Regions from separate parts of the Homo sapiens genome. Here region 1 is linked to region 2. The links come from fine-mapping of genetic effects on gene expression. A gene starts in region 2. The other region holds a variant in brackets. All regions are shown on one strand. Distances are from middle to middle.

What was found. PIP is the estimated chance that this variant, and not a neighbour inherited with it, causes the effect.
Region 1: its variant is fine-mapped to the expression of EDAR in whole blood (TOPMed, PIP 0.97).

The regions. Positions count from the first base shown.
Region 1 is chr2:109,028,904-109,033,290 of GRCh38, forward strand. It overlaps a transcript of RANBP2 not described here. Among named protein-coding and RNA genes, the nearest start is that of EDAR, 42 kb to the left of the region's middle. The variant G/A (reference allele first, on the strand shown) is at 2,456.
Region 2 is chr2:108,986,753-108,991,139 of GRCh38, forward strand. EDAR (ectodysplasin A receptor) reads right to left here and starts at 2,468. Exons shown (of 12, transcript NM_022336.4): 1 at 2,208-2,468. It also overlaps a transcript of RANBP2 not described here. RefSeq lists an enhancer at 941-1,442.

The DNA.
Region 1 (4,387 bases), 42 kb after region 2:
GTCACGACTTTAGTTGTGATTGTTTATTTATTTATTTGTTTGTTTATTTATTTATTTATTTAGTAGAGACAGGATTTTGCCATATTGCCCAGGCTGGTCTCAAACTCCTGGGCTCAAGCAATCTTCCCACCTCAGCCTCCTAAAGTGCTGGGATTACAGGCGTGAGGCACTGTGCCCGGCCTATGTGATTGTTTATTTCTTTAGCCCTCACCTCATTCTAAACTACAAAAATAAATAAAATAAATAAATAAATAAATAAGGTTTAAGGCAAGATTATTGTTATTACTGTTAATAGGACACCTGGGCCCTTTCCTCCTTCATGTCAACACTGAGTCTATGGAGTCCCTCCCCATCCCAGCCCCCATTCACCCCCATGGCCGCAGCTGCTGGGTTCTGCCTTGGCCACTCCTCCAAGTTCCTTCCATAAAGCTAGTAAAGCATCCAGGAGAGGGATGATGAGGGACCATGTGTAAATGGGAGAAACTTCATTAGGGTAAGGAAGGCATGGGAATCTGGAGGTGGGAAACCATGATGTGGCTGACACTGATGCCTGAAGTTATTGAAGGGTGCCTCAGCCCTCCTGGGAAGCAGCAGCTCAGTGTGTGTCTGTCCGTTTCCAAGGGAAAACCTGGTCCTCTCAATGAGGGGAAAGAGGAGATTCTGCAGCATGTGTGTCCCTGCCGGGCAAACTTTACAGCATCAGGCTCCAAAAGTAGAGCAGGGTGACCCTGGGGAGCCCTCCCTCCTTCCTCGGCCTGGGATGCCTGCCTGCTGCCTGTGCTGTCTCCTCTGTTCCCCTCTCCTTTCCTGGCTGGAACAGCTGCAGGACAGGGCCCCCCGGCAGCCATCATCCAGCCTTTCATCTCTATCCTTGTCTCCAGCCTTGCCAGCAACTTAAGCCTAATCATTGCACAATGAAAGGCTGTTTCTCTCAAATGGATGCAGACATCCTTAGCCTTCAGGGGCAGCCTCTTATTTTGCTCACAGATAAGGCTGTTTATTTTAAAGAAATACTATACTAATAACCCTCTTGACTTGACAAGGATCCTGGTTGCTATCTCTGTATTGATGGATTGATTGATTCATTCATTCAGTAAGCATTTACTGAGTGCCAGTTCGAGTGTGTGGGTGAGTCTTAGATTTACTGCCTCCTTGACATCATTCTTTAGAAAGAATTCTTTGACTCTAACTTTTGTTTGCTACCTCAGAATGTTCTGCCTATGCAAAGAACAGTTTCAAATCAACCTGGATTCGAGAGCTCATGAAACTGATCCTCAGCCTTCATTTTCAGCCTTTTCCTCAATCCTCCCCTGCACAGCCAGCTGGCTCAGCACTCTCCCCAGCAGGCCATGCGCTCAAGTGCTTTACCTTCAACATTTTCCCACTGAAGACCCAGCCTTCTCCTCTAGCCAAATTATGGTATGCTACGTAAAATTCCTTAGAATTCTATTTTAAGTGAATTTCACGTAAGTAAAGCCCATTGTTAATGTCATTGGAAAGGTTATTTTTAAATGAAGAGGTGTGCCATACCCTGCCAAATGTGATAATGTGTATAGTAGCACCTAGCACAGTGCCTGGTGCATTCTGGATAGACAGTAAATATGACCTGAATGAATGAAAGAATGGGCCTCACTGTCTGATGGGATGAGGCTCCCTGAGAAGGAGTGGGGAGTGGTGGCCTCTTTGAGGATGACCAGCAGGCTGTTAAGCAGAAGGCTCCTTCTAGAATTGTACTTTCCTGAGTACCTAGGACCAGCTTGGGGCCCCTCAGGCATCTGAATTTTTGGACCACTTTGGTTTATATAACCCACTTCTTATCCAGGTTCTGTCTCTTGACAGTTTTTGTTGTTGTTGTTGTTGTTTGTTTGTTTTCTAGGTCTCACTATGTTGCCCAGGCTGGTCTTGAACTCCTGGGCTCAAGCAGTCCTTCTGCCTCGGCCTCCAGAGTAGCTGGGACCACAGGTGCACCACACCCGACTTTGGCAGTTTTTTAACATCTCCCAAGTCTTTATTTTCTTGGTAAAATGGTTTAATAATTGGTATATATACTCATAACTAGTACACAGACTAACACAGTGTGCATGTATACCACCATCAGTGTCATCTGCACCTTTTGTCTCACTGACTCATGGTAAGACACGGAGCGCTCCACGAGGGGACGCCATGTGTGGAGATGCTGGAGTCTAAGGGTATTGTGATTGGGCAATGGTAAGAACTCCGGGTCCCTAAGTCCATTCCTGCTGCTACAACAAAACACCTTAGAGAGTAATTTATAAATAGCCATTTCCTTTTCACCGTGCTGGAGGCTGGAAGTCCACCATCAAGGTGTCAGCAGTGAGGGGGGCCTGTTCCTCACAGATGGGGGCTTCTTGATGGGTGCTGGCTGACTCAGCACAGATGGGGGCTCTGATGTGGCAGGGGTGGGGTAGAGACGGGAACGCTCTGCAGAAGGAGC[G/A]GAAGGGAGGAAACAGCTTCCTCCAGCCTTCTTATAAGGTTATCAGCCCCGTTCCCCTTACGACGGAATCACTTCCCTGGAGGCCCCCTCTTACTACTGTTGCACCGGGGACTGGGCTTCAATCAGTAGCAGCAGGGGATGCGCGCTCAGACCCAGCAGTCGGCTCTGCCCGCCTCGCCGGGCTGCACCGAGTCCGCGGGTCTCTAGCGCACGGCCTGGCCCCACGTGCGGCGAGGAGGGCGCAGTGAAGTTCTGCTGTGTGCACCCCCTGCAGCTCGGCCGGGAAGCGCCCGCTGGAGGAACGGAGAGCGCCGCTTCAGCGTCGGCCACGTGGGCCGGGCTCTGCCGGTGGCAACCTGGACGCGCTGCGGGCGCCGGCGAGACCTGCGCCAACGCCTACCTCCGGGCCACAGGCGGGATAAAGCTGCCCCACTTTGCCCCCAGCGAAGAGAACCCTCCTTCCTCTAAGTATTTTCTTCAGCAACTAAGCTTTTCTGTTTGCTCAATTTCTTGTCCCGTGAGCGCTACCACCCACCCCCCGCCACCTTCTTCCCCTCCCCCCACATCCGTTCACTCTCTTTGACCTTTTGCCAAAACTCTGAACGCTCGCTGCCCTCCCTCCCATTTCCTCACCGCGTTTCAGGAGCTGTAAGTTCTTGGTGTTCAAACCCCCTACGGTTACGTAAACAGAACTCTGCAGTTATCTTCTTTCCCTTTCTTCGGAGCTTTGTTTTCAAGTTCATTAGAGACTTCCTGTGGGTGTAATTACCGCTCTGCAGTTTTGAGCGCTGCCCACCTTCCCCCTGTTTTGTTAAAAATGTCATAGATCTTTGGAGATTTCTTTCACTTCTAAAGTTATTACCTGTCTGCCTGCACATCAATCTTGTTGATTTTATTTCAGGGCATTTTCCGGAGTGAACTTCTGCATAGCGATTTTTTTTGTCCCTCCCCACCCCCTCTTTGTTTTGCAGGAAGGTGAAATAAGACAGAAGAAAAGGGTTAGAACTTTAGAACTCCAGGACCCAACCTCAGTCCTTTCAAGCACCGTCTGCAAACAGATGCTGTGCTAGACTCAGCACCCTGTCTGGTGAAACTGCTCCTTGGGGTGACATCGGTCGAATGTGTGAGAGGCTTCAGCGGATGCCCTGACTTTTACACCATGGAAGGGCTTTCTCCTCACTCTCCATTCTTCATCCCACTCCATCCATGCGCTTTCTCCCCTCCCCATGGGGTGGGGTGGGGGAGTCTTTCCTCCAGCTGAGAGCAGAGGCCTTGGCCAACTAGATGTGTCTTCTGGGATTTCACAGTCGGGCCACCTCTCACCTCTTGCACAGGCTGGTGGGTTAAATGAAACTCCTGTAGCAACTCACAGAGCATTTGATTTAAAGCTAAGATTTATAGGAACTCACAAGTCAGAATGGAACAATAATTTCCCTCCGGTTGCACTGCCACTACTGAGGAGCAATCGCCTAATTCCACACAGAGTTTGCTGATTCTGTGGGCCTAACAGAGAACTCCAGATGGGCAACTAGGAGCTAAGAAGTGCATCCTATGTCACCAGGAGCTAATTTTCCCTGGATTTTCAAAGAGGCCTCATATTTGACCCATGTCATGGCAGGGTGAAATATAAGTCCTTCCTGAACCCTTGGAAGCTGAACGTTGTGGACATCAGCCATGGGAAATACATTTCCTTTAAACTGATCACCAGGCCTTAGTATGATCCATGCCTTGAGTGGACAGAGACCTTTCATGTTTGGTCATTACTCAGCCAGACACTTCTCTGAGAGGTGATGACTTCCCTAGGAAGGAATAACAAAGCCCCTTTCAGGCTGTTGATGGGCCCTGTCCACTTTAATTTTGCATTCAGCCTCGCTCATTTCTGTGAGCTGAGATTTTGATTATTCTGATTTCCACGACTCCTTTTGTGAAACA
Region 2 (4,387 bases):
TTTTTAGGAAAATAGTAATCTTTGGGACTTAAAAAAAATTCCTTCCTGCAATATACGAATTCAGTAAGGACAGAATCGTAGGCATTGAGATGGAGGCGGCATACTCACAGGAAAGGCTGGCTGGGGCTTTTGTCCCCTAATTGATCTAATGTGCTAAGTGGGCTTAATGTAAGTTAATTAATGATACTATTGGTGGGTGGAATACCTAGGCAGAGCCTCAAACAGCATCAAAGGAACGAGCAGGCAGGTGTCATCCAGGATAATTGAGGCATGCAGGCAGTCACTAGGCAGGCTAGGAGGAGGGTGAGGGGAAACTGAGCCCAGCTGAGGGGCTGAGCCACTTAAGCAGCAAGGCTGTCTGCCAAACACCATCCTGTTTACAGCTCCTGTATTTGAATTTCAGATTTGCTTGAGTCTTTGAAGCTGGGTTCCTGGGCATTTCCTTGAGAATAAATTCTATTCTTTGGAAACCACAAAACGCACTCACTTGGACCCAGAAAGGAGCGTCAGGTAACCCAGCTTCCATCTGTGGGCCTATGAGACCTGAGGAACTTTGACTAGAAGAGGCTCCCCATTTAACAGAGGCAAGTAGGTTTTGCGCTCCGTGAGATGGGGTAAGACCAGGTCTGTCTGCACTCCGGAGCAATGTTGGGCTGCCGCCCAATGGCAGGCACTGGGCTAGGCAAGAGGGTACCATGATGCCTGAGAAACAAAGATGAGCCCCTGACATGTCTGTGCTTCACAAATGTGTATGCCCAACAAAATGAAAGTCCAGCTCACAAAAGCAAGAAACCAGGTAGTGGCCAGGGAGTGAAAATCAAGCATTTCAGGGAAAGTGTATTTACTTTTTCCTCCCAAAGACTGGTCCTTCCAAGATTATCCTCCAACTGTGCTGTCACAAATTAATCCTCCCACAGCACAGCCTGGCCCACTTAGGGATGGGGAGGGGTACAGTGGAGACCCCCGGCCAATCGCCACCAGGATCGCCAAACTTTCCCAGCCGTGAAGGGTACACGTGGACTGTCATCGGAACGAACGCTTATTTCCAAGCCTTGACCAGAGTCACTCTCTTTTTGGTGGCCTCTGTCAAAATGTATCTTTAAAGGTTTTAAGTGGCTATGACTTACAAATCTCAGAGTATTAAGCCAGGCAAGAAACATTCTCTATTTTAGATGCCTGGATCCCTTTTTTCCTTCAGTCTATTATGGCTCTTCACTTCTTTGTTACACTTTCACTCTTGCTTAGAAAGTGTCTCAAAAATGCCACTTGAGAGCCACAGAGCAGTGGCCTGGGGACTGGGGAAGAGGACGGTGGTGCTCCTGTCTCTCCGTACGTCTCCTCACATGCGTGTACCCCTGGCTGTGTGGGATTGCCCACTGACCGGCATCTGCCCTGCTTGTTGATTTTAACTGTCCCTCTTGTTGCTGACCCAGCACAACATGGGCAGGGAAACCCAGTGGGAACCTCGCCTGCTGACCTCCCTGCCCAGCCACCCGCTTCTCCCTGAGCTGACATCTCAAAGCTTGGCTGCTGCAGGAGGCTGGGAATCAGAGCCGACTGAATCAGAGCCGACTCCTGTCTAGGAGCCCAACCCACCCCACGGTCTGTCAGAGTGTTGAGAGGAACCTCTTGGCTGGAAATGAAAACCTCAATCATCACAAATAGGTACCCACTCCCCTCCTTCTCTCCCTCTCCCCGCTCCCCCGCCACCAACACAGAGGCCAGGATATGGGGGGTCTCAGACACGACTGGAAACCCCACTTGGAAGGTCTCTTAGGTCACAGCGGGTACGCAGAGTTGGAGGCAGGTACAGAGCCCAGCTAGAGTCCCTGCCGCGCCTGCCTTCCCCAGTGAGCCGGGCACAGGGGCAAACCTGAGAAACATACTTTTCACGCTCCCTGGAGGAACCCGTTGCTTCAGTAGCCCAAATCTTAAAGCCTGTGAAGCACACACAGAATTTGTCTCCCTAACCAAATGTGCAACCAACAGCAAAACAGGGTTTCTGATGTTTTTCTAAAACAAAGGAACAATCTCAGGTCTTAGAACTGGTAGCGCAGACATACTGCAATCGGTAAAGCTTGTTCAAACGCAACCCAAAAATGACATGCATTTCAAAAATGCACCCAGCCTCTCTCCCAGCCCATGACACCTCCGTCTCGGCCACAGCTGAAGAGTTTAGAAAACCAGAGGAAAGGACCAGGGCTTACCTGGCTTCTGTTGGAGGTCAGCTTCAGTCCCAGCAGAAGATGGGTCTATGAAGAAAGTCAGGTACCATCCAGTTCTGGGTGACAGGCTTCACAGGTGGCCACCGTGGCAGCCCTCTCAGAAGCAGGTACTCTATGTCCTTAGGGGCCAGCAGGGCTGCCTGGGACCTGGCACACCTCTCTGACACTAGCCCCGCTTCCTTTCCGTTTAAAGGGCTTCCCGGGAACTCTTCCTTGACCGCTCCCTGCCCTGTCTGCAAGTTTGGAAACTCAGTCCTTGCCGAGGGGCTTTCCCTCATTGCAAACTCACCTGCACCATCTAGAGGTCTCTCCCAGCACTGGAGAGGCTGGAGCGGGCACGTTCAGCCCTGCTGCCATAGGTCCCTGGCACACCTGGCTCTCCGGCCGTCTGCCCCTTAAGAGATCTGTTGGAATGCGTAAAAATCATGGATTTTTTTTTTTGCAGGGGTGGGGGCCTTGCTTCTATCAGAGCCTTTAGGCGTGGGAGTGCTAAAAAGCTAAACTAGCATTAAAATATCATTAATCAAAGCTTGTTCGTAGAAGGACCCCCCACTGAGATGGCTACAGGCATGGGTGCCACTGCACGGATTCAGCTTCCAACATGTCTGTTCACATTCTCACCCATCCCCCGCACATCCCTCAGGGTTTGAGCCACCAGGACTGCTCTTCCTTTCCTCTCTCTGGACACCTCACACCACCAGTGTATACCCATGTAACTTCAGATAACCATACACACCCCCCGTATAACTAGGTAATTAGGAAGCCATTTGAAACATCAACATTTTGAAAGGACATACCTTTCAGTATTGGGCAATTATTTCTCAAAAAGTAAATGATTGGGGGGGGGAAAACAGCCTTAAAATAATGTCATTCTCTTGTCATTTTCTCCCTCATTCACACCTACACAGATAAATACAGGAACAGAGCAGCTCCTCCAGGCTAGATTTCTGTGTTCTCCTTTTCCATCTTGTCCCCTCTGCCTTGGAAACCTACAAGGTAACTCACACATGAGAAAGTAAGAGCTTAAGAAAGAAACAGTCTGGGCTCCGTGGCTCACACCTGTAACCCCAGCACTTTGGAGGCTGAGGCGGGCAGATCACTTGAGGTCAGGAGTTTGGGATCAGCCTGGCCAACATGGTGAAACTCCGTCCCTACTAAAAATACAAAAATTAGGCCGGGCGCGGTGGCTCACGCCTGTAATCCCAGCACTTTGGGAGGCCGAGGCGGGTGGATCATGAGGTCAGGAGATCGAGACCATCCTGGCTAACAAGGTGAAACCCCGTCTCTACTAAAAATACAAAAAATTAGCCGGGCGTGGTGGCGGGCGCCTGTAGTCCCAGCTACTCGGGAGGCTGAGGCAGGAGAATGGCGTGAACCCGGGAAGCGGAGCTTGCAGTGAGCCGAGATTGCGCCACTGCAGTCCGCAGTCCGGCCTGGGTGACAGAGCGAGACTCCGTCTCAAAAAAAAAAAAAAAAAAAAATATACAAAAATTAGCCGGTGGTGGCATGTGTGGAGGCTAAAGCAGGAGAATTGTTCGAACCCAGGAGATGGAAGTTGCAGTGAGCCGAGATTGTGCCACTGCACTCCAGCCTGGGCAACAGAGCGAGAATCTGTCTCAAAACAGAAAAGAAAAGAAAAGAAAAAAGCAGACAGAAATGTATGGGGCTGGGGCAAGGACCTAGACTGTAAAGGACTAATTCTGCCTCCACAGAGATTAAGCTGAACCAGAGTTACTTAGCTGACTTGATCCTTGTGGATGATTAATCTAGATAATATAAGCTCCCAAACAAGAATTTTAACTTGAATTTTCAGGTTTGGTTGTCTACCCTGCTCATGCCGAGTTCAGACTGAGGGTCTGTGATAAATTAAAGTCACTGAAATTATTAAATTAGGAACCTGGGAAAATGAATGGGAGGTATTCTGGGCTAATCTGTTCTACTCCATATAATTTTTACTTTCTGGTGTGCTCACAGTGTGTTTGAGGTTTGGGATTATTTTAGGTGTAACTAAAACATTTTTTCTATTGGAAATTAAGTGGTGATTTAAAATTTACCAAAAGGAATGATACTGATATTTCCCAAAGAGAGAGAAAAAAGACACAAGAAAAAATTAAAATGGCACAAAATATGGATGCTGTAATAGAAGCCAAGGGAGTTTTTTC